2 separate regions of the Homo sapiens genome follow, and region 1 is linked to region 2. The links come from fine-mapping of genetic effects on gene expression. A gene starts in region 2. The other region holds a variant in brackets. All regions are shown on one strand. Distances are between the middles of the regions.

Evidence for each region. PIP is the estimated chance that this variant, and not a neighbour inherited with it, causes the effect. A credible set is the group of variants that fine-mapping cannot tell apart.
Region 1: its variant is the best candidate, but not a certain one, in a credible set for the expression of ZNF106 in whole blood (INTERVAL, PIP 0.51).

What each region holds. Positions count from the first base shown.
Region 1 is chr15:42,293,306-42,301,305 of GRCh38, forward strand. It overlaps GANC (glucosidase alpha, neutral C), which reads left to right. Exons shown (of 24, transcript NM_198141.3): 6 at 4,306-4,351. Among named protein-coding and RNA genes, the nearest start is that of TMEM87A, 24 kb to the left of the region's middle. The variant G/A (reference allele first, on the strand shown) is at 3,145.
Region 2 is chr15:42,483,667-42,498,730 of GRCh38, forward strand. It overlaps ZNF106 (zinc finger protein 106), which reads right to left and starts at 7,475. Exons shown (of 22, transcript NM_001366845.3): 1 at 7,314-7,475. It overlaps SNAP23 (synaptosome associated protein 23), which reads left to right and starts at 11,968. Exons shown (of 8, transcript NM_003825.4): 1 at 11,968-12,047. RefSeq lists enhancers at 6,948-7,137, 7,188-7,237, 7,538-7,647, 11,641-12,184, 12,185-12,728.

The sequences.
Region 1 (8,000 bases), 190 kb before region 2:
CCATCTGCTTGATCAAAGCTGTTTATGTGGGGTGCTCACATGAATTAGGAGGTGGTGGTAAGGAGGAGATTCTTATTCCATTCTTACGAACACTGTTTTTAAATCTTTTAGTCTATAGTTCTTTCTATTTTTATCATGATAATAAACGTATTATATGATCTGCAGAAAGCATTCAACATTCATTATTCCAACATAGTCATTTTTCTGAGTTTCAACTCATTTCTGTTTTAAAATTTTGATACTAAAAATATCTCATTTTCTCATCTCAGAACTAATACTTGTTCATCATAGGCAGATTAGAAAATATTGAAAAGAAGAAAATTTAAAATCCCCATAATCTCTCCACCTACTCTCTTAGTGCCTTATGAATAGTCAAGTACTTGTTTAACTGAAAAATACTAATAATAGCAGAACAAATATCTGTGTACCCACTACTCATGTTCTTTATATGTAAAGCCTTTTTTCTAGCCAGGCACAGTGGCTCACACCTGTAATCATAACACTTTTGCCGAGGTGGCAAATCAGTTGAGCCCAGGAATTTGAAGCCAGCCTGGGCAACATGGTGAAACCCTGTCCTACAAAAAAATACAAAAAAATTAGCTGAGTTTAATAGCACATGCCTGTAGTCCCAGTTACTTGGGAGGCTGAGGTAGGAGGATCACTTGAGCCCAGGAGGTCAAGACTGCAGTGAGCTGCGACTGTGGCACTGCACTCCAGCCTGGGCAACAGAGCGAGATTCTGTCTCAAAACAAACAAACAAAAAACGCTTTTTTTTCTTTTGTAAACCCCGATGATTTTGTTCTGTTTTCTTTTAAACATTGTTTTCTTTCCTATCTAAGTTGATCCTTTTACTTACTTATGTAGAAGAGGCACATGGTACAAAGGAGTATATATTAATACACATTTCTATGTAATAATAGTAAAGAATCTCCTTCCCCCTGTGTCCTCTAGCTGCCCACTTTCCATCGTTGAAAGTAATGTGTTCTGGTCGGGTGTGGTGGCTCATGCCTGTAACCCCAGCACTTTGGGAGGCCGAGGCAGGTGGATCACCTGAGGTCAGGAGTTCGAGACCAGCCTGGCCAACATGGTGAAACCCTGTCTCTAGTAAAAATACAAAAATTTAGCCAGGTATAGTGGCACATGCCTGTAGTCCCAGCTACTCAAGAGGCTGAGGCAGAAGAATCTCTTGAACCCAGGAGGTGGAGGTTGCAGTGAGCTGAGATCATACCATTGCACTCCAGCCTGGGCAGCAGAGCAAGACTCTGTCTCAAAAAAAAAAAAAAAAAAAGTAATGTGTTTCCAGTTTTTTGTGTATCCTTTCAGAAACAATTTATGTATACACATTTTATATATATTCTTTGACTTTTCCTTTCCTGACACAAATGGCGCCACCTTTACACATTATTCTACACCTTGCTTTTTTCTGTTAACAATGTGATAATTCTTAATTTCTTTAAAGCAGCTACATAATTTCTGTTGTATGGCTTTACCATGATTCACTGAGTAAATTCTCTATTGAGGGATTTAAAGTTGTTTCTAATCTTGTTTTACAACTAGTTAGTTTACTAATAACCTTGAATATGTGTCATTGTGCATATATACAAGTATATTTATAGTATAGAGTCATAAAAGGATAGTTGTTGATCAGATGGTTTGTGCATTTGTAGTTTTTTTTTTTTTTTTTGAGATGGAGTCTCGCTCTGTCACCCAGGCTGGAGTGCAGTGGCATGATCTTGGCTCACTGCAAGCTCTGCCTCCTGGGTTCATGCCATTCTCCCACCTTAGCCTCCCGAGTAGCTGGGACTACAGCGCCCACCACCATGCCCGGCTAATTTTGTTTTTGTATTTTTAGTAGAGATGGGATTTCACTGTGTTAGTCAGGATGATCTCGATCTCCTGAACTCGTGATCCGCCCGCCTCAGCCTCCCAAAGTGCTGCGATTGCAGGCATGAGCGACCACGCCCCGCCTGTAGTTTTCATAGGTATTGCCAAATTGCCTTCCATAGAGGTTGTACTGGTAGCTATAGTTCCATGATTTACATTTATATTTATAATTATATTTGTGTTAGGAAAATCAGATGATCTAACTGGAAAAAATTTTAAGTTAGATTTTAACCTCATAACATTAACAAAAATCAATTGCAGATGAATAAAAATTAAACATAAAAAGACATAAAAATAGAAGAAAATATAAAACAATATTTCTGTAATTGTGAGAGTGTGACATAAACTGAAGAGCCATAAGGAAAAGATTGATGGATTTGATTACTTACACATTTTAAGCTTTGATTCTACTCAGAAAGCAACACAAGAAGAAAAAAAGCTTTATTATAGACACACACACACACACACACACACACACACACACACACACACACACACAGCGTGAACAAAATTAAAAGTCAAGGACTTCCAGTTTCCCGTCTGGCATGTAAGGAGCTTAGAAGTCACTACTCCATCCTAACAATGACTAAAAAGCTCAACAAATCAGTTTTTGCCTTATATAGTTTGATGCTCTGTTAGACTCATACACGCATTAAAGATTGTTACGTTGAGCTGGGCACAATGGCTCATGGCTATAATACTAGCACTTTGGGAGGCTGAGGCAGGCAGATCATCTGAGGTCAGGAGTTTGAGACCAGCCTGGCCAACATGCTGAAACCCTGTCTCTACTAAAAATACAAAAAAATTAGCTAGGCATGGTGGCATGTGCCTGTCGTTCCATCTACTTGGGAGGTTGAGGTGGGAGAATCACTTGAACCTGGGAGGTGGAGGTTTCAGTGAGCCGAGATCATACCATTGCTCCAGGCGGGGCGACAAGAGCAAAACTCTGTCTCAAAAAAAAAAAAAAAAAAGATTGTTATGTCTGCTTAGAGTATTGATCCCTTTATCATTGTGTAATATCCCTTTTTATCCCCCCAAATTTTCCTTGCTTTGAAATCTCTTCTGTCTGAAATTAATATATCTACTCTTACTCTCTTTTGATTGGTGTTAGCATAGTATATCTTACCTTCAGAGGTAACCAGTTTACTAAATTTTGTGTTAATCACTTCCTTGGGTTTGATTTGGTTTGGTTTAGTTTAGTTTTGTATTGTTTTAAGACGGAATTTCACTCTTGTTGCCCAGGCTGGAGTGCAGTGGTGC[G/A]ATCTCAGCTCACTGCAACCTCCGCCTCCCAATTGCAGGTTCAAGCAATTCTCCTGCCTCAGCCTCCCAAGTAGCTGTGATTACAGGTGCCCACCACCACGTCCAGCTAATTTTTGTATTTTTAGTAGAGACAGGGTTTCACCATGTTGGCCAGGCTGGTCTCGAGCTCCTGACCTCAGGTAATCTACCCGCATTGGCCTCCCAAAGTGCCCATATTACAGGTGTGAGCTGCCGCACCCAGACTCCTTGGGGTTTTTAATTGGATTCCCACATATGTATGAATTCCCAAACAACATATTATTTGGATTCGTCTTTTCTAAAAAAACTTTTATGTAATAAAAGTATGCTGTATATATTCTTTTGTAATGTATTTTTCACTCAAATATTTTTTTTCTTTTTCCTTTTTTTTTTTTTTTGGAAGATATGGTCTCACTATGTTGCCCATTAAATGTATAAAAGTTAGCCTACATCATTCATGCTCTTAGAAATACAAACTGAAATGCATTTATTTTTTCTACAATTTTAGATTGGCAAAAACTGAAAGATTGATAAAGTCCAGCAATGTTAAGAATGTGGGGAACTGAGCACTGAAATACAACTATGGGTGGAAGAATAAATTGTCACAATCATTCTGAAAGACTGTACATTATAGTGCTGTGTTCTGGGAGTGAGGAGAGTTACACCGAGTGTAGGGAGCTATGTTCTACCTTGCTTACTTAGATTTTGTTGAAATATTATGAGCATGTTTAACATTTATAATAAAAAATGATAAAAGTATTTTTTAAAGAGTTAACAAAATTAAAATACTTCTACATTAAGAAATGAAGCTATTAGATTAATGTTCATCATTACTGTCCAATTTTATAAACTCATTTTTAAATTGTTTTTTATTGTTTAAAGATGAGATCTCACTATGTTACCCAGGCTGACATCGAACTCCTGGGCTCAAGTGACCCTCTAGCCTCAGCCTCCCAAGTAGCTGGGATTACAGGCAGGCACCACTGCACCTGGGTTCATTTTTATTTTTATAATGATGTTATATTTAATACATTAAAGGATATAACTGAGGTCTCAAAAGTTGGAAATGAAAAATCTTTATCATTGAACAAAATTCTGTCAGTCTTGCCATTGAGTGAAACAACTTTATTTACGTTAAAACAGAGCTGCTAAAGAAAATGAGGAGGAGACATCAGTGGACACCTCTCAGGTAATCTAGATTGATCCATTTATTGTTATCTTTTTCACCATCATCATCATGATAGGGCATATAAGGAATTCTCTTTCTTCCTTCTACAGAAGGGTGCTTGTTAAATGATCGACTGCATATAAATAGGACCACTTGTTTCTTCGGCTCACCTTGTCATCTCGTTGATTCATTCATTCATTTATTCATTCATTCATTCATTCATTCATAAAAACAGATGCTTCCTGAGTGCCTACTTTTTGCCAGGCATTATTGCTAGGCAAGGAGAATCAGCCTTGAATAAAACAAATCCCAAACATGTTCTCATGGAAATTAGAATCTATTGGGAAAGACAGACATTGGGTAAGTAATTACAAGCATGAGGAGTGTTACAAAATGGTGCTGTAGGAGAATACAAGGGACCTGGCCAAGATGAGGGTCAGGAAAGACCTTCTGAGGGAAATAATGTTAAAGCCGAAACTGATGTCTACACAAGTCAAAAAGTTGTATATACACAAGTCAAAAAGTTGGGAAAAGAATGTTCCAGGTAGAGGGAACTGCATATTCAAAGATGTGGAGGTAGGATGGAGCATATTCCATTTGAAGAAATGGAATATGTATGCAATATATATTTATTTCATCTGGAGAAAGGAAAGCAAAGGGGAGGGTGGTATGTAACGAGGCTAGAAAGACACGCAGGGCAGTGCTGTGGAAAGATTTGTAATAATTATTTTATCTAACAATTATTTGTTAAGTACCTCCTATATCCCAGGCACTGTTCATGGAATTGGTGAGACATCATTGAAAAATATAAGTCCCCCATTTATCATGCAGCTTACCTTCTTCCAAGCCATGTTAACCTTTCTGAGTTTCTCCTAAGAGCAAAGGAAAACTCTGGAACGGTTCTAAGTAGCAGAGATGCATGGTCTTATTTCTATTTTTAAAAGATTATTTTGTTGAATTGTGAAGAATGGACACTCCAGAAATCTTCTCTCTCTTCATCCCCAATCACATGTATCTTCAAAAGAGCACTTTTCACAATATTGATTCTTCCTATCCATGAGGATGGAATGTTTTATCATTTGTGTTCTCGCTTATTTCCTTGAGCCGTGGTTTGTAGTTCTCCTTGAAGAGGCCCTTCACATCCCTTGTTAGCTGTATTCCTAGGTATTTTATTCCCTTTGTAGCAATTGTGAATGGGAGTTCATTCATGATTTGGCTCTCTGATTGTCTAGTGTGGATGTAAAGGCATGCTTGTGATTTTTGCACATTGATTTTGTATCCTCAGACTTTGCTGAAGTTGCTTATCAGTTTAAGGATTTTTTTGGGGCTGAGATGATGGGGTTTTCTAAATATAAAATCATGTCGTCTACAAACAGAGACAATTTGACTTCCTCTCTTCCTATTTGAATACTCTTTATTTCTTCCTCTTGCCTGATTGCCTTGGCCAGATCTTCCAATTACTATGTTGAATAGGAGTGGTGAGAGAGGACATCCTTGTCTTGTGCCAGTTTTCAAAGGGAATGCTTCTAGCTTTTGCCCATTCAGTGTGATATTGGCTGTGGGTTCGTCATAAGTAGCTCTTATTATTTTGAGATATGTTCCATCAATATGTAGTTTATTGAGAGTTTTTAACATGAAGGATGTTGAATTTTATCAAAGGCCTTTCCCGCATCTATTGAGATAATCATGTGGTTTTTGTCTTTGGTTCTGTTTATGTGATGGATTACGTTTATTGATTTGCATATGTTGAACCGGCCTTGCCCCAGAGATGAAGCTGACTTGATCGTGGTGGATAAATTTTTTGATGTGCTGCTGAATTCGGTTTGCCAGTATTTTATTGAGGATTTTCACATTGATGTTTATCAGGGATATTGGCCTGAAGTTTTCTTACTGCCCAAAATAATTTATAGATTCAATGCTATTCCCATCAAACTACCATTGACATTCTTCACAGAATTAGAAACAACTACCTTAAATTTCATATGGAATCAAAGAAGATCCCGTATAGCCAAGACAATCCTAAGCAAAAAGAACAGATCTGGAGGCATCACATTACCTGACTTCAAGCTATACTACAAGGCTACAGTAACCAAAACAGCATGGTGCTGGTACCAAAACAGACATATAGACCAGTGGAACAGAACAGAGACCTCAGAAATAACCAAATAACACCACACATCTACAACCATCTGATCTTCGAGAAACCTGACAAAAACAAGCAATGTGGAAAGGATCTCCTATTCAATAAATGGTGCTGAGAGAACTGGCTAGCCATATGCAGAAAACTGAAACTGGATCCCTTCCATATGCCTTATACAAAAATTAACTCAAGATGAATTAAAGACTTAAATGTAAAACCCAAAACCATAAAAACCCTAGAAGAAAACCTAGACAATACCATTCAGGACATAGGCGTGGGCAAAGACTTCGTGATGAAAGCGCCAAAAGCAAATGCAATAAAAACCAAAATTGACAGATGGGATCTAATTAAACTAAAGAGCTTCTGCACAGCAACAGAAACGATCATCAGAGTAAACAGGCAACCTACAGAATGGGTGAAAATTTTTGCAATCTACCCTAAGTGCTAATATCCAGAATTTACAAGGAACCTAAGCAAATTTACAATAAAAAAACAACCCCATCAAAACATAGGCAAAGGATATGAACAGACACTTCTCAAAAGAAGACATTTATGTGGCCAACAAACATGAAAAAAAGCTCAACATCACTGATCATCAGAGAAATGCAAATCAAAACCACAATGAGATACCATCTCACACCAGTCAGAATGATGATTATTAAAAAGTCAAAAAACAATAGATGCTGGCGAGGCTTTGGAGAAATAGGAATGCTTTTACACTCTTGGTGGAAATGTAAATTAGTCCATTGTGGAAGATGGTATAGTGAGTCCTCAAGGGTCTAGAACCAGAAATACCATTTGGCCCAGCAGTCCCATTACTTGGTATATACCCAAAGGAATATAAATCATTCTACTATAAAGACACATGCACATGTATGTTTATTGCAGCACTATTTACAATAGCAAAGACATGAAACCAACCCAAGTGCCCATCAGTGATAGACTGGATAAAGAAAATATGGGACTGGGTGTGTGGCTCATGCCTGTAATCCCAGCACTTTAGGGGGCTGAGGCAGGTGGATCACCTGAGGTTGGGAGTTCAAGACCTGCCTGACCAACATGGAGAAACCCTGTCTGTACTAAAAATACAAAATTAGCTGGGCGTGGTAGTGCATGCCTGTAATCCCAGCTACTAGGGAGGCTGAAGCAGGAGAATCACATGAACCTGGGAGGTGGAGGTTGCAGTGAGCCAAGATGATGCCATTGCACTCCAGCCTGGGCAACAAGAGTGAAACTCCATCTCAAAAAAAAAAAAAGAAAGAAAGAAAGAAAATGTGGTATGCTGTGGCTGGCAAGATGGCTGAATAGGAACAGCTCCGGCCTGCAGCTGCCAGCAAGATCAACACAGAAGGCAGGTGATTTCTGAATTTCCAACTGAAGTGCCCTGACTCATCTCATTGGGACTGGTTAGAGAGTGGGTGCAGCCCATGGAGGGCGAGCCGAAGCAGGGTGGGGCATTGCCTCACCCGGGAAGCACAAGGGATCAGGGAACTCCCTCCCTTAGCCAAAGGAAACCATGAGAGACTGTGC
Region 2 (15,064 bases):
TTACAAGGCCCGCTTGACACAACCCTTGCTAATGTGTATTACATAGGTTTGAGCTACTTTCTTGTTGATCTCTGTGATCAGACAAAATGACATTTTCAGTTCTTCCCACCTACCACACTCCTCCCACCTTAGGGCTTTTTCATATGCTGGTCCCTCTCCCTGGAAAGCTCTTACTCCTTTTCATCTAGTTAATTACTCATCCTTCAAATCTCAGTCCAAATGTCAGTTGCCTAGGAAAGCACTCCCTCATCTCCCAGACTAGGTCATACCCCTCACTGTGCACTGCTCTTCTGAAACCCTATCTCTTCTTTATAACACTTATCCCAATTGTGGCTATTTCTGAGGCACACTGTAGAGCAGCAATTCTCAATCACATCAGACCCAACTTTTTTCCTAAAACATATCATTGTGGAAATTTTCATTCATACATAAAAATAGAAGGCTTATTATAACAATCCCCAGTGTTCTGATCAGCCAGCTTCCCCAATTGTCACCATACAATTTTTTCTTTAAAGATATTTTGTACCCCCTTTTGTTGTAAATATTTTGTAATAACCTTCTTATCCTTCCTGAAATAAAATGCAGAGCTACTGTAACTTACTTACACATGTAAAACTTCAAATATCAATTAATGTGCTAACTATAATAAAAATGAAAAATTAAAGGAAAGTGAGTTATAAAGTAACATGTATATCAACATATAAATGCTCAGACATGACTATATTAGAAGAATAAAACTATAAATATGACTACTACAAAATCAGACTAATATAGACAGGCATGTGATATTGTTGATAAAAAATACCATGAATAGGATAGGCATGGCGGCTCACGCCTGTAATCCCAGTACTTTGGGAGGCTGAGGCAGTTCAAGACCAGCCTGGCCAACATAGTGAAATACCATCTCTACTAAACACAAAAATTAGCCAGGCGTGGTGATGCGTGCCCGTAGTCCCACATACTCAGGAAGCTTACGCACGAGAATTGCTTGAACCTGGGAGGCAGAGGTTGCAGTGAGCCAAGATCATGCCACTGTACTCCAGCCTGGGTGACAGAGTGAGACTCTGTCTCAAAACAAACACAAACAGCATTGCTGTCTGCAATATAATTTCCCAAAATAGTGACCAACTCAATAATCTTTCTGAACTAAAGAAAGCACAGTCCCTTGATTTACACATTAACTATGCTTCAGGCAAAAAATACTCTGTGTTGACCAGGCGCGGTAGCTCACGCCTGTAATCCCAGCACCTGGGAAGCGGAGGCGGGCGGATCGGTAGAGTCCAGGAGTTCAAGACCAGTCTGGCCAACATGGCAAAACCCCGTTTCTACAAAAAAAAAATTAGCTGGGCTTGCATGCCTGTAATCCCAGCTACTCAGGTGGCTGAGACACAAGAATCACTTGAACCCAGGAGGCAGAGGTTGCAGTGAGCCAAGACCATGCCACTGCACTCCAGCCTGGGGGGTCAGAGTGAGACCTTACCTCAGAAAAACAACAACAACAAAAAAAATACTGTATGTTTATGTTAAACAAATTTGGTTTGAGGCTCAGATAATTATAAACAGATTTTTCACCTACATGAACATCTTCTGGGACATTAGAAAGTGATGCAAGGTTTATGTGTTCTCACCACAAAAACTTATAAGTAATACATATGTTAATTAGTTTCATCTAGCTATTCCACAAGGTACAGCAGGTCCTCAAAAAATGCTGTTTCATTCAATATCATGCTGTTACAACATTAATGAGAAAAAATAAATTACTTCCAGCTGAGGCCACTGTCCATGAAGACTTCGTATGTTCTCCTTATTCCTTCATGGGTTTCTTCCAGGTCTCCAGTTTCCTCCCACACCCCGAAGTAAGTGCCTGATAGGTGAACAGGGTGTCTAAACAGTCCCAGTCTCAGTGAGTGTGGGTGTGTGTGTGTGAGTACACCCTGGGATGGAATGGCGTCCTGTCCAGGGTTGGTTTCTACCTTGTAACCTTAGCTGCTTAGGATAGGCTCTGACCACCTGAACACTGAACTGGAATAAAGACGTTGGAAAATAAAAGAGTGGATAAATAAAAATTATTATAAAATAAAAATGTGTGACGTATGCACAACAATAAACAATGTGGTACGAAAGCACCCACCTGTCATATTTGTTGATTTTTAACCACATGGTAGTAGCCAGTGCTCCTTAAAATTTTCACTTTGGAAATATTTATTCCTTGATTTAGCCCACCACCAGTGGGACTGTGGTCACCCATTGATTTGCCAAAAATTAGGCAAATATCCTGTTTTTATTACTCTTTCTTTTTTTTTTTTTTTTGAGACGGAGTCTCGCTCTGTCGCCAGGCTGGAGTGTGGTGGCATGATCTGAGCTCACTGCAACCTCCACCTCCCGGGTTCAATCGATTCTCCTGCCTCAGCCTCCCGAGTAGCTGGGACTACAGGCGCATGTACCACCACACCCAGCTAACTTTTGTATTTTTTAGTAGAGATAGAGTTTCACTATGTTGACCAGGATGGCTAGATCCCTTGACCTCGTGATCCGCCCACCTCAGCCTCCCAAAGTGCTGGGACTACAGGCGTGAGCCACCGCGCCCAGCCCTTCTTTTTTTTTTCTTCCAGAGACAGGGGTTTGTTCTATCACCTGGGGTAGAGTGCAGGGGCATGATCATAGCTCACTGCAGCTTTGAACTCCTGGGCTCAAGTGATCCTTCCACCTCAGCCTCCCAAGTAGCTGGGATTACAGGTATACGCTACTATACTTGGTCAATTTTTAAAATTTTTTGTAGAGACAGGGTCTCGCTTTGAAGCCCAGGCTGATCTTGAACTCCCAGTTTCAAGTGTCCTCCACCTTGGCCTCCCAAAGTGCTAGGATTACAGGTATGAGCCACCATGCCCAAGCTACTCTTTTTTACATCTACGTATAGCTCACATTTATTTCAATGTTTAGTATTAGAAGTGTTTGGGGTCTTCATTTAGAAGTTTGGTGATGTTCTTGTGACCAGAAATATGCCATAGGAACTTAACTCTTTTTTATATCAATTAACCTGTGGCAAAATTAGTTTTGTTATTATGCTGTTTTGCTTAGAGTCACAGTTTCCAAGATCCTATTGATGTTAAGTGAGGACTTGTTATATATATATATGTCAAGGCACCATATTGTACACAATAAATACATATATTTTATTGCCAATTAAAAAATTAATTTTTTTGGCCAGGCACAGTGGCTCACGCCTGTAATCCCAGCACTTTGGGAGGCTGAGGTGGGGGGATCACCAGGTCAGGCATTTGAGACCAGCCTGGCCAACATAGTGAAACCCCATCTCTACTAAAAATACAAAAAATTAGCCAGGCATGGTGGCAGGTGCCTGTAATCCCAGCTACTCGGGAGGCTGAGGCAGAAGAATCGCTTGAACCTGGGAGGCAGAGGTTGCAGTGAGCAGAGATCGTGCCATCGCACTCCAGCCTGGGCAACAAGAGTGAAACTCCATCTTTAAAAAAATAAAATAAAATAAAATAAAAAAGCTTATAGGGAAAATATGGCCTGGATGCAGTGGCAGCACACTTATAATCCTAGCACTTTGGGAGGCTGAGGCAACAGAATCACTTGAGGCCAGGAGTTCAACACCATTCTGGGTGACACAGTGAGACCTCCTCTTCACACACACAAAAAATTTATTAATTAGCTGGGCATGGTGGCACGCACCTGTAGTCCCAGCTACTAAGAAGGCTGAGGTGGGAAGAGGATTGCTGGGGCCAAGGAGTTTGAGGGTGTAGTGAGCCATGATCATGCCACTGTACTTCAGCCTAGGTGACTGAGCAAGACCCTGTCTCAAAAAAAAAAAAAAAAAAAAAAAAGCTTTTAGGAAAAACTATTACTACCCCCTCCTGTTTCCTAGCCACCGCCACTTCCAGTCAGCCACTCTTGTGAGTTTCTTATTTGTTTTCCAGAGATATTTTTCAATTTTTTTGCATGAAAATACAAAACATAAAATTTACCATCTTAACCATTTAAGTGTAGTTTAGTGGTATTAAATACATTCATAATGTTGTACAACCAACACTACCATCCGTCTCCATAACTACTTGCATCTTGCATAACTGAAACTTTATATCCATTAAACAATAACTCATTTCCCCCTCCCTCAACCCCTAGCAACCACCATTCTACTTTCTGTCTCTATGATTTTGACTATCCTCCACAGAGGATATTCTATGCATATATGGTTGTCCCTCGATATCCATGGGGGATTGGTTCCAGGATCCCCCTCAATACCAAAATCTGAGAATGTTAAAGACCCTTATATGAAATGGCACAGTATATGCATGTAACCTACACATACCTTCCGTATACTTTAAATCATCTCTAGATTACATGTAAGACCTAATACAATGCCTACACATAACTTCATTTATGTGGATGCAATGTAGTATGTACTCAGCACGTAGCAAATTCAAGTTTTGCTTTTCAGAAATTTGTGAATTTTTTTTCCCCAAATATTATCCATCCAAAGTTGGTAGAATCCATGGATGCAGAACCCATGGACGGATATGGAGGAACAATTGTATATGCAATACATAATATTTTTATAAAACCACAGTGGTTGCAAAATGCACACCCTCTTTTGCACCTTTTCTTTCTCACTATATGGGAGGTCACTCAATATTAGCACATATAGAGCTGGCTCATTCTTTCTAGCAAATTCATACATTTATTTAACCAATCCTTCACTGATGAAGACCTGGGAGCTTCTTGATAGTTTCTTTCAGATTAAAACATGCACAAACATGCACACACACACACACACTCGACTGTAGAGTTTCCACTAGTGATTTCACATGCTAGAGGTCCAAGTAGAGCATTCATATGTAACTTGTCTGCCCAGGTGCTCTTATTCATTGGGTACAGAAATTAATCCTAAACTCTCCACTAAGATACTCCCAATTACAAAACACACAATACATAGACTTCTCACTGAGCCATTCCTGGTCCCAGAACCAAGTCGTCTAGCATCTTCCATTCCTCTCAACTCTTGTAGAGCAGCCTTCAGACTACACGTGCACTAATCTAGATGTACAATAATCACTATTCATAGTCTTTCCTTTTTAAATATCTTCCTTTTAATCAAAACAATTGAGGCCGGGCACTGTGGCTCACACCTGTAATCCCAGCAATTTGGGAGGCTGAGGTGGGTGGATCACCTAAGGTCAGGAGTTCAAGACCAGCCCAGCCAACATGGTGAAACCCCGTCTCTATTAAAAATACAAAACGTTAGCCAGGCATGGTGGTGGGCACCTGTAATCCCAGCTACTCGGGAGGCTGAGGCAGGAGAATCACCTGAACCCAAGAAGCGGAGGTTGCAGTGAGCTGGGATTGCGCCACTGCACTCCAGCCTGGGCGACAAAGCAAGGCTCTCTCTAAAAAAAAAAAAAAACAACACACACACACACACACACACACAATAGGTTCTGAACTAGCCTGATCAGATTCGTTCACACCCTCTACCTCCTGCCAGGCCATTTTTTATTATTTTTTAATTTTTTTTTTTTGAGATGGAGTTTCGTTTTTGGAGTACAATGGCACAATCCTGGCTCACTGCAACCTCCGCCTCCCAGGTTCAAGCGATTCTCCTGCCTCAGCCTCCCAAGTAGCTGGAATTACAGGCATGTGCCATCATGCCCAGCTAATTTTGTATTTCTAGTAGAGACGGTGTTTCTCCATGTCGGTCAGCCTGGTCTCAAACTCCTGACCTCAGGTGATCCGCCCGCCTCGGCCTCCCAGAGTGCTGGGATTACAGGCGTGAGCCATCGCGCCTGGCCCCTTCCAGGCCATTTTAAAGTTCTCCTCGAAAACCATCTAGTATTTCTAATTAAAGGGCTCCTACTATCTTCTAGACTCAAGAGTTAACTCTAGGCATGGCGCGGTATTGGCAAATGTGTAGTAGATACTAAATAAATTCTAGTTGCATCTGAAAATTGTCTTTCATTATTTCATTCACGACCAAACTTGAGAACGGGGCTTAAAGCAAATTTTAAGATTTCCCATGCTATTTACAACAGTACTAAGCTCTTAATAAGCACTCAAAAGTTATCTGTGGGCCGGGCGTGGTGGCTCAAGCCTGTAATCCCAGCACTTTCAGAGGCCAAGGTGGGTGGATCACCTAAGGTCAGGAGTTGGAGACTAGCCTGGCCAACATGGTGAGACCTCGTCTCTACTAAAAATACAAAAATTAGCCGGGCGTGGTGGTGGTGCACGCCTGCAATCCCAGCTACTCGGGAGGCTGAGGCAGGAGAATCTCTTGAAACTGGAAGGCGGAGGTTGCAGTGAGCCAAGATCCCGCCACTGCACTCCAGCCTGGGCGAAAGAGCGAAACTCCGTCCTAAAAAAAATAATAATAATAAAAATAAATAAAAATACAAAAAATTAGCCAGGTATGGTGGTGGGTGCCTGTAATCCCAGCTACTGGGTAGGCTGAGGCAGGAGAATTGCTTGAATCCAGGAGGCGGAGGTTGCAGTGAGCTAAGATCGCGCCACTGCACCCCAGCCTGGCAACAAGAGCGAAACTTTGTCTCAAAAAAAAAAAAAGAAGTTATTTGTGCTTTGAATAAACTGGATATAAACCATTATGGTGGATACAGCACTTATTTGCTAGGTAAGAGAACTTCGCTTACCTAGGATGACAGTCTCAAGTTGCTAAAAGCCACGGATATCTCAAACTTCTCAATAAGATGCCTTAATCTTACTCTCAAAGATGATTACACAACAAATTGAAAGGGGAAGAGGATGTAAAGCATTTCCTCTCCACAATTATACACCGAGATTCGGACTAAATATTAAACGGACACAGTAAGCTGTTGTTACTATTTGTTATTAGTTGTTATTATCAAGACGCATCCCACAAGGAGAGAAACGAAAGGAGGAAAAAGAACGGAGGTTGTCAGTCGCGAGAGGTTGAAATGTGTCCCTGGCCTGAGACCTACGGGCTTTAAGGACCAGGGTCTTTGGACTCCCTGCCCAACTGGGGACGAAGGAGGTCAGTGGCTTCCCCTAAAGGTCAAGGCTTTGGAGCCACGTTTCCTTCTGGGGCTGGGAGCAGAGCTGGAACGCCCCCGCGAAAATCCGTACCCCGAAGCCAGCAGCACCGCCTGCCCATAAACCCGCGCCGGCTCTGGGAGAGTGGACCACCAGGTTGCCCCTGAGCCGCAGCCTGCAGGAGTAGAAACCCGGTGGTGTCTTGCAGCCCCACAACCTCCCTAAGGGGCAGACGACCAGGACCCTTGGGCTCCGATACGCTCAACGCAGGCCGGCCCGTCGATACTCACATTCACAGCCAACCCCTCTTACTCCATCAGGCCGCCGAGAGCCAGGCGAGGGAGCTCCCTGACGCCTCAGACGCCCCCTTCAGTTTTGGGTCCGGGAGCCTGCTCCGGACCCGCTCCCCGCCGGGCCCCGCCACAGCCGCCGCCAACGCGCAGGCGCACACCGAAGCCGTCACGCTCGCTTTTTTTTCCTTTGCCGTCCGCAGTTCTCAATAATCTAGCTTTATTTGAACACAAGAGAGTGAACAACGGACACACAGGAAGAGGTTTTTCTCAAAAAGAATGGAGGAAGAACAAAGGCAGGCCCGCTTGCGGGAGAGTCAGTACGCAGCGTTGGACGCTATGAACAGCCTCCCTGGTCCCTTTTTCATTCTCCTTGTTTCTCCTTGTTCTTTCCCGGCCTCCCTGTAGCTCCTACTCTCTTCCTTGGTGTCCCGCCATTTCCTTTAGTCAGTGGCAACTGTTCGGGCTACATTTTGAAAACACTCCTTCCTTGTAAAACTTTCTGAAGTTGAATGGAAGGTGCAAGAGCTTTAGAACAGCCAGACCTGAGTTTCAGATCTTGGACTAGCTACGAATAATTTGTGACTTTGGGTAAATTACAATTCTTCTTGGAACCTCAGGTTCTTGAGTTAAAATTAGGATAATGTTATCTCACAGGGTGTTGCTAGGATTAAATAACATAGGTCAAGTGTTTATCTATGAATGCTGCCTATCACAGAGCAGACATTCCATAATACTGACTTTATTCTTACTCATGCCTAAGGTATTTATAATATTTTTTAAGTAGAGACGGGGTTTCACCATGTTGCCCAGGCTGGTCTCAAACTCCTCGGCTCAAGTGATCTGCCTGCCTTGGCCTTCCAAAGTTCTGGGATTGCAGGTGTCAGCCACCGCGCCCAGCCTACATTTATTATTTATTTATTTAGTTAGTTAGTTAGTTAGTTATTTTGAGATGGAGTCTTGCTCTGTCGTTCAGGCTGTAGTGCAGAACCGCTCTCTTGGTTCACTGCAACCTCCACCTTCCGGGTTCAAGCGATAATCCTGCCTCAGCCTCCCAAGTAGCTGGAATTACAGACGTGCACTACCACGCCCAACTAATTTTTGTATTTTTAGTAGAGATGGGGTTTCGCCATATTGGCCAGGCAGGTCTCAAACTCCTGACTTCAAATGATCCGCCCACCTCGGCTTCCCTAAGTGCTGGTATTACAGGTGTGAGCCACCGCGCCCGGCCGCCTATATTTATTATTAAACTTAGCCCATACCCATTCCCTCAGAAACCTAATTTTAGTGACTAAGACTATCAGATAAATGAAATGACATTCAGGTTGATAATTATGTGGAGTGTCCCTCCTATATTATTGAGATTATAACATCTCTGTTTAACAAGACCTTCAACGTCTCAAATAAAAGTAAGCAGCGGTGGGGCACAGTGGCTCACGCCTGTAATCCCAGCACTTTGGGAGGACGAGGTGGGCAGATCATGAGGTCCAGAGATCGAGACCATCCTGGCCAACATGGTGAAACCCCTTCTCTACTAAAAACACAAAAATTAGCTGGGCGTGGTGGTGCGTGCCTGTAGTCCCAGCTACTCGGAAGGCTGAGGAAGGAGAATCGCTTGAACCCGGGAGTCGGAGGTTGCAGTGAGCCGAGACCTCGCCCCTGCACTCCAGCCTAGCGACAGAGCGAGACTGCGTCTCAAAAAAAAAAAAAAAAAAAAAAAGAGAGAGAAAAAAGAAAGGAAGCGGCTATATTAACCTCTTCTATGTAAATCCAGATTTGTTCTAGAGGTTTAGGAAACTTCCAATTCCGTGTTTGTGACATCACAAGTCCTTGAAACACTCAAGGGTTGTGGTACGCTGCTCATTCTATTCTCCTTCAAAGGCATGCAATGGAGGAACTATTTTACCCTATAAACTCTGGGCCATCATTCAGGGAAAAGCCTGTAGAAGACCACAGTCAGATATTGGTGAGTGCCAAGGTAACGCTAGATTATGGTTTCTCAACTTTGGGATTACTGACATTTTGGAACATATACTTTTTTGTCAGGGGTATCCTGTGCATTATAAGATGTTTAGCAGCAGACTGGGAGCAGTGGCTCACACATGTAATCCTATAACTTTGGGAGGTCAAGGGAGGCAGATCGCTTGAGTCCAGGAGTTTGAGACCAGCCTGGGTGACATGGTGAAACCGTGTCTCTACAAAAAATGCAGAAATTAGCCGGCAGTGGTGGTGCACACCTGTAGTCCCAGCTACTCAGGAGGCTGAGGTGGGAGGATTTGAGCTGCAAAGGTAGAGGTTGCAGTGAGCTGACATCACACCATTGCACTCCAGCCTGAGCAACAGAGCAAGACCTTCTCTCTCTCTCTCTCTCTCTCTATATATATATACATATATGTGTGTGCGTGTGTGTGTATGTATGTTTAGCAGCACTGTTGGACACGATGCTAGTAGTACCCACCCCCGTTTCCCTGTCATCACAATAAAGCATCTCCAGACATTGCCAAATATCCCCCGGAGGACAAAATCGTCCCTGGTTGAGAACCACGGAATTATATCAATGACCATCACAACCCTAAATGAACTAATGAACTCAACCATACATTTTCTCCACCTCTGCCCTCAACAAGTGACTGCTGCTTGAGAAATTTACACAGGAGGGCAGAAAATGGTGAGTTCATTTTTGCCCATATTAAAAAGGCCCTCAATATTGCTTACCAGTCCTACAACATTCTTCTGTCAACTTGTTGTATTACTTTCTACAATATTCCAAATCTTCTCAGCTTTCCTTTAAACTCCCAATACCACCTCCTTTTCTATCAGAAGATGACCCCATCTTCAACTTCACAGAGAAAACAAGTCAGCAAATGAGAACTTTAACTTCCTGTTACTAAACATACAGAAACATACTTCCTCTCATAATTGGGGAAATATCTCCTCTCTCTCTCTTTCTCCCTCCCTGCCCTCTTCCAAAACCATTATTCTTACCAGTGTTTCGAACTGCCTCTAAACTGCCTCTATTCTTACCCTTTCAAGATCTTTGCCTACTGACTATCCCTTCTCTTCCTTTATTCAACCATTTTTTTCTCAGTTGAATCTTCCCTACCATGCTCAAGTTTCTCCTGTCTTAATTCTAACAAAAATCAAAAAAACAAAAACAAAAAATCTTGATCCTTCATCATTCTCCCTCCTTCCTCCCTGTCAAGGCCAAACTTTCCAAAAGCATTCTACAACTTGTCCCCATCTCTACATCTCCCCCACCTCCAAACTACTAAGTTGTTTTTTTCAACCCCAGCATTCCAACAAACAGCTTTCACTGAGATAATCAGTGACCTCTGTGTTATGAAATTAAAAAAAACATTTCTCAGGCTTCATCTTCCTTGATCCCTTAGGAATAGACTACTTACTCCTTGAAGCACTTTTTTTTTTTTTTTTTGAGATGGAGTCTGGCACTGTCGCCAGTGATAGACATTATGATAGTAATGTAGCTGGGATTACAGACACCCGCCACCACACCCAGCTATTTTTTCTTTCTTTTTTTTTTTTTTTTGTAGGGGGGACGGAATTTCACTCTCGTTGCCCAGCCTGGAGTGCAATGGCATGATCTTGGCCCACTGCAACCTCCGCCTCCCAGGTTCAAGCGATTCTCCTGCCTCAGCCTCCCGACTAGCTGGGATTACAGGCGCCTGCCACCATGCCCGGCTAATTTTTTGTATTTTTAGTAGAGATGGGGTTTCTCTATGTTGGCCAGGCTGGTCTGGAACTCCTGACCTCGTGATCTGCCCGCTTCAGCCTCCCAAAGTGCTGGGATTGATTACAGGCGTGAGCCACTGTGCCTGGTGAAGCACTTTCTTTTCTTGATTTCCAGCAGTTTATTTTATTCTTAGAGGTGCATGGAGGGGTTCCTGCAGCAAATAGTTTACAATAATCCTCCATCTGCTTAAAACTCTTCAATAGCTTTCAGTGCCCCTAGTACAAAGTGGTCTAAAATTCCAAGGCCTTCCAAGATCTAGCGATTGTTGGCCTTCTAAAGCTTTCTTTCCTCTACACTCGGGGATGTACGATTAGCACTAAGCCTCTAACAAGGATGAACTACTAGAAATTTCCAGAAGGCGTTATGCTGTTCTCGACATAAGCTGTTCCCCAGAGCCTGGAAAACTCTAGCTCTTTCTCTGCCGGATTTCCGGGGGAACTCCTACTTATCCTTCATGACTCAAGTCACTTCCTCCGGGAACCCTTCCAGACACCCCTAAGAATAAAACGCTTTGTTCATTATCAGCCAAAGGCGCCTCAAATTTTCTATGTGCTATGCACTGTATTCTATCCACTATAATTTGTTTACATATCTATATCTTAGTCTAGACATATTGAAAGGCGATGAAGAGCAGGGAAAGCACTGTATTCGCTTTCTTTTCTTCAGCGTTCATCCAGCACAGTGCCTGGCATACGGTTTGCCCTCAGTAAATGTTTATTGCATGAACACCTCCCAGCTTCGGGCAGGACTGAAATCTATCCGGTTAACTAGTGAATTCCCAGACTCTCCGTCTGCGTGGCAGGGACATTTAAACCCCCAGCACCGTGATTGGCTCCAGCTGCAGGGGTGTGTCTGTGTCCGCGGCGAACGGGAAGTGAGCAGGCGCGCGGGCTCGGCGCGCGCAGGCGCGACTAGGGTGCAGCGCCAGGTCCGGTGTTGGGGTGTCCGAGTTGCCGCCGGAGAGGAGTGGCCTCGCCCGCTTGGTGAGTCTCCAGGAGTGGGACGGAGGGAGCTGGCCGGGATGAAGTCTGAGACTATGTCCTGAGAAGAAAGAGTGTATCGTATTGGTTGAAAAGTTGGTGGGGTCGGGCTTAAGCGGAGGAGGGGGCTCTCTGGCCCTTACTCGGCAGATGGGCCCGGAGAGAGGACGGGAGGTGCCGGGAGAACATCGAGGGACCAGTGGAGGAAGGGTAGCTGGATGGTAATTCTCTGGACCCTTCCTCGAAATTAAACAGAGATCACTTTCCGCCCCTCACCCTTACTGTGTTGCTGTAGTTGACATTAATAGACTGCCTGTATGGTGACCACAGTGATCAGATAGCTCTGAGATAATGGCTTGAGGAAGGACTCTGAGGTTCCTGGTATTGGATAGCCCTTGCTCTCTAGAAAGGTTCAGCCTTACCTCGCGGCATTACTGCACAAATTAGAGGATCAGGAAAAGAATGAATTTCACAATTCGGGATTGGAGTGGTGGGGGGAAAAAGTACTGTAAAGTGTAGTTTCATCTCGTCCTTTTTTTCTTCTTTAATCAGTCACCACAATGTTAGGAAAGGCAGTTGATGGTAGGAGGAAACGTAAAGACATAAAAGTGGGAGAGGAAAAAAAAGTCAAGAAGGGAGTATCATTTTGCCTTTTGCTATTTGTCATCTCCTGGAATGGGGTCTGTATTAGTGCGTTCTCACACTGCTATAAAGAAGTACCCAAGGCCGGGCTTGGTGGCTAACGCCTGTAATCCCAGCACTTTGGGAGGTCGAGGAGAGAGGATCATATGAGATCAGGAGTTCGAGACCAGCCTGGCCAACATGATGAAATCCCATCTCTACTAAAAATACAAAAATTAGCCAGGCGTGGTGGTATATGCTTGTAATCCCAGCTACTCCGGAGGCTGAGGCAGGAGAATCACTTGAACCTGGGAAACAGAGGTTGCAGTGAACCGAGATCGTGCCACTGAGCTTCAGCCTGGGAGACAGAGTCAGGCTCCAACTCAAAAAAAAACAAAAAGCAAAAGAAATACTCGAGACTGGGTAATTTATAAAGGAAGGAAGTTTAATTGACTCTCAGTTCTGCATGGCTGGGGAGGCCTCAGGAAACTTATAATCATGGTGGAAAGCAAAGGAGAAGCCAAGCACCTTCTTCACAGGATGGCAGGAGAGAGACAGTGAAGGGGAAAAAGCCCCTTATAAAACCAGTATCATGAGAACAGCATGGGGGAAACCACCCCCATAATCCAATCACCTCTCACCAGATTCGAGATGAGATTATGAATAGCCAAACTGTATCATTCTGCCCCTGGCCCCTTTCTTTCTTTCTTTCTTTTTTTTTTTTTTTGAGATGGAGTCTCACACTCTGTCACCCAGGCTGGAGTGCAGTGGCGCGATCTTGGCTTACTACAACCTCCAACACTTCAAGCGATTCTCCTCCCTCACACTCCTGAGTAGCTGAGACTACAAATGTGTGCCACCAAACCTGGCTAATTTTTTTTTTTTTTTTTTTTTTGAGATGGGGTCTTGCTCTGTCGCTCAGGCTGGAGTGCAGTGGCGCGATCTTGGCTCACTGCGACCTCCGCCTCCCAGGGTCAAGCAATTCTTCTGCCTCAACGTCCCAAGTAGCTGGGATTACAGGCACCTGCCACCAGGCCTGGCTAATTTTTGTATTTTTAGTAGAGATGGGGTTTTGCCATGTTGGCCAGGCTGGTCTCAAACTCCTGACCTCAGGTTATCCACCGGCCTCCGCCTCCCAAAGTGCTGGGATTACAGGCGTGAGCCACCGCGCCTGGCTAATTTTTGCATTTTTTAGTAGAGACGGGGTTTCACTCTATTGGCCAGGCTGGTCTCAAACGCCTGACCTCATGATCCACCCACCTCATCTTCCCAAGGTGCTGGGATTACAGGCATGAGCCACCACGCCCAGATTCCCTGGCCCCTTTCAAATCTCATGTCCTCACAGTTCAAAACACAATCATGCCTTCCCAACAGGCCTCCAAAATCTTAACTCATTCCAGTATTAACCCAAAAGTCCAAGTCCAAAGTCTCATCTGAGACAAGGCAAGTCCCTTTTGCCTAGGAGCCTGTAAAATCAAAAGCAAGTTAGTTACTTCTAAAGATGCTATGGGGGAATAGGCATTGGTAAATGCTCCCATTCCAAATGGGAGAAATTGGCCAAAACAAAGGGGCTACCGGCCCTATGCAAGTCCAAAATCCAGTGGGACAGCCATTACGTCTTAAAACTTATTTTAATCTCCTTAGACTCCATGTCTCACATCTAGGGCACGCTGATGCCAAGGGTGGGCTCCCAAGGCCTTGAGCAGTTCTGACCCTGTGGCTTTGCAGGGTTCAGGCCCAGAGGCTGCTCTGCTGGGCTGGCATTGAGTGCCTGAGGCTTTTCCAGGTTCATAGTGCAAGCTGTTTGTAGACCTGCCATTCTGGAGTCTGGAGAATGGTGGCCCTCTTCTCACAGCTCCACTAGGCAGTGCCCCAGTGGGGATTCTGGGGGGTGGGCGGTGTCCAATCCCACGTTTCCTTTCTGCAGTGCCCTAGCAGAGGTTCTCCATGAGGTCTCTTCCACTGCAGCAGACTTTGGCCTGGACATCCAGGCATTTCCGTACATCCTCTGAAATCTAGACAGAGGTTCCCAAACCTCAATTCTTGACTTCTGTGCACCTGCAGGCCCAGCTACCACGTGGAAGCTACCAAGGTTTGGGGCTTGCACCCTCTGAAGCAACAGCCCAAGCTGTACCTTGACCCCTTTTAGCCAGGAGCTGGAGCAGCTGGGACTCAGGGCCCCAAGTTCTGAGGCTGCCCACGAAACCATTTTTTCTTCCTAGGCCTCAGGTCTTGTGATGGGAGGGGCTGCCATGAAGATCTCTGATATGCCCTGGAGACATTTTTCCCATTGTTTTGGTGATTAACATTCAGCTCCTTGTTACTTAACGCAAATTTCTACAGCTGGCTTAAATTTCTTCTCTTTGCTTTATAAATTACTTGGTGGTCTCAGCTCAGTG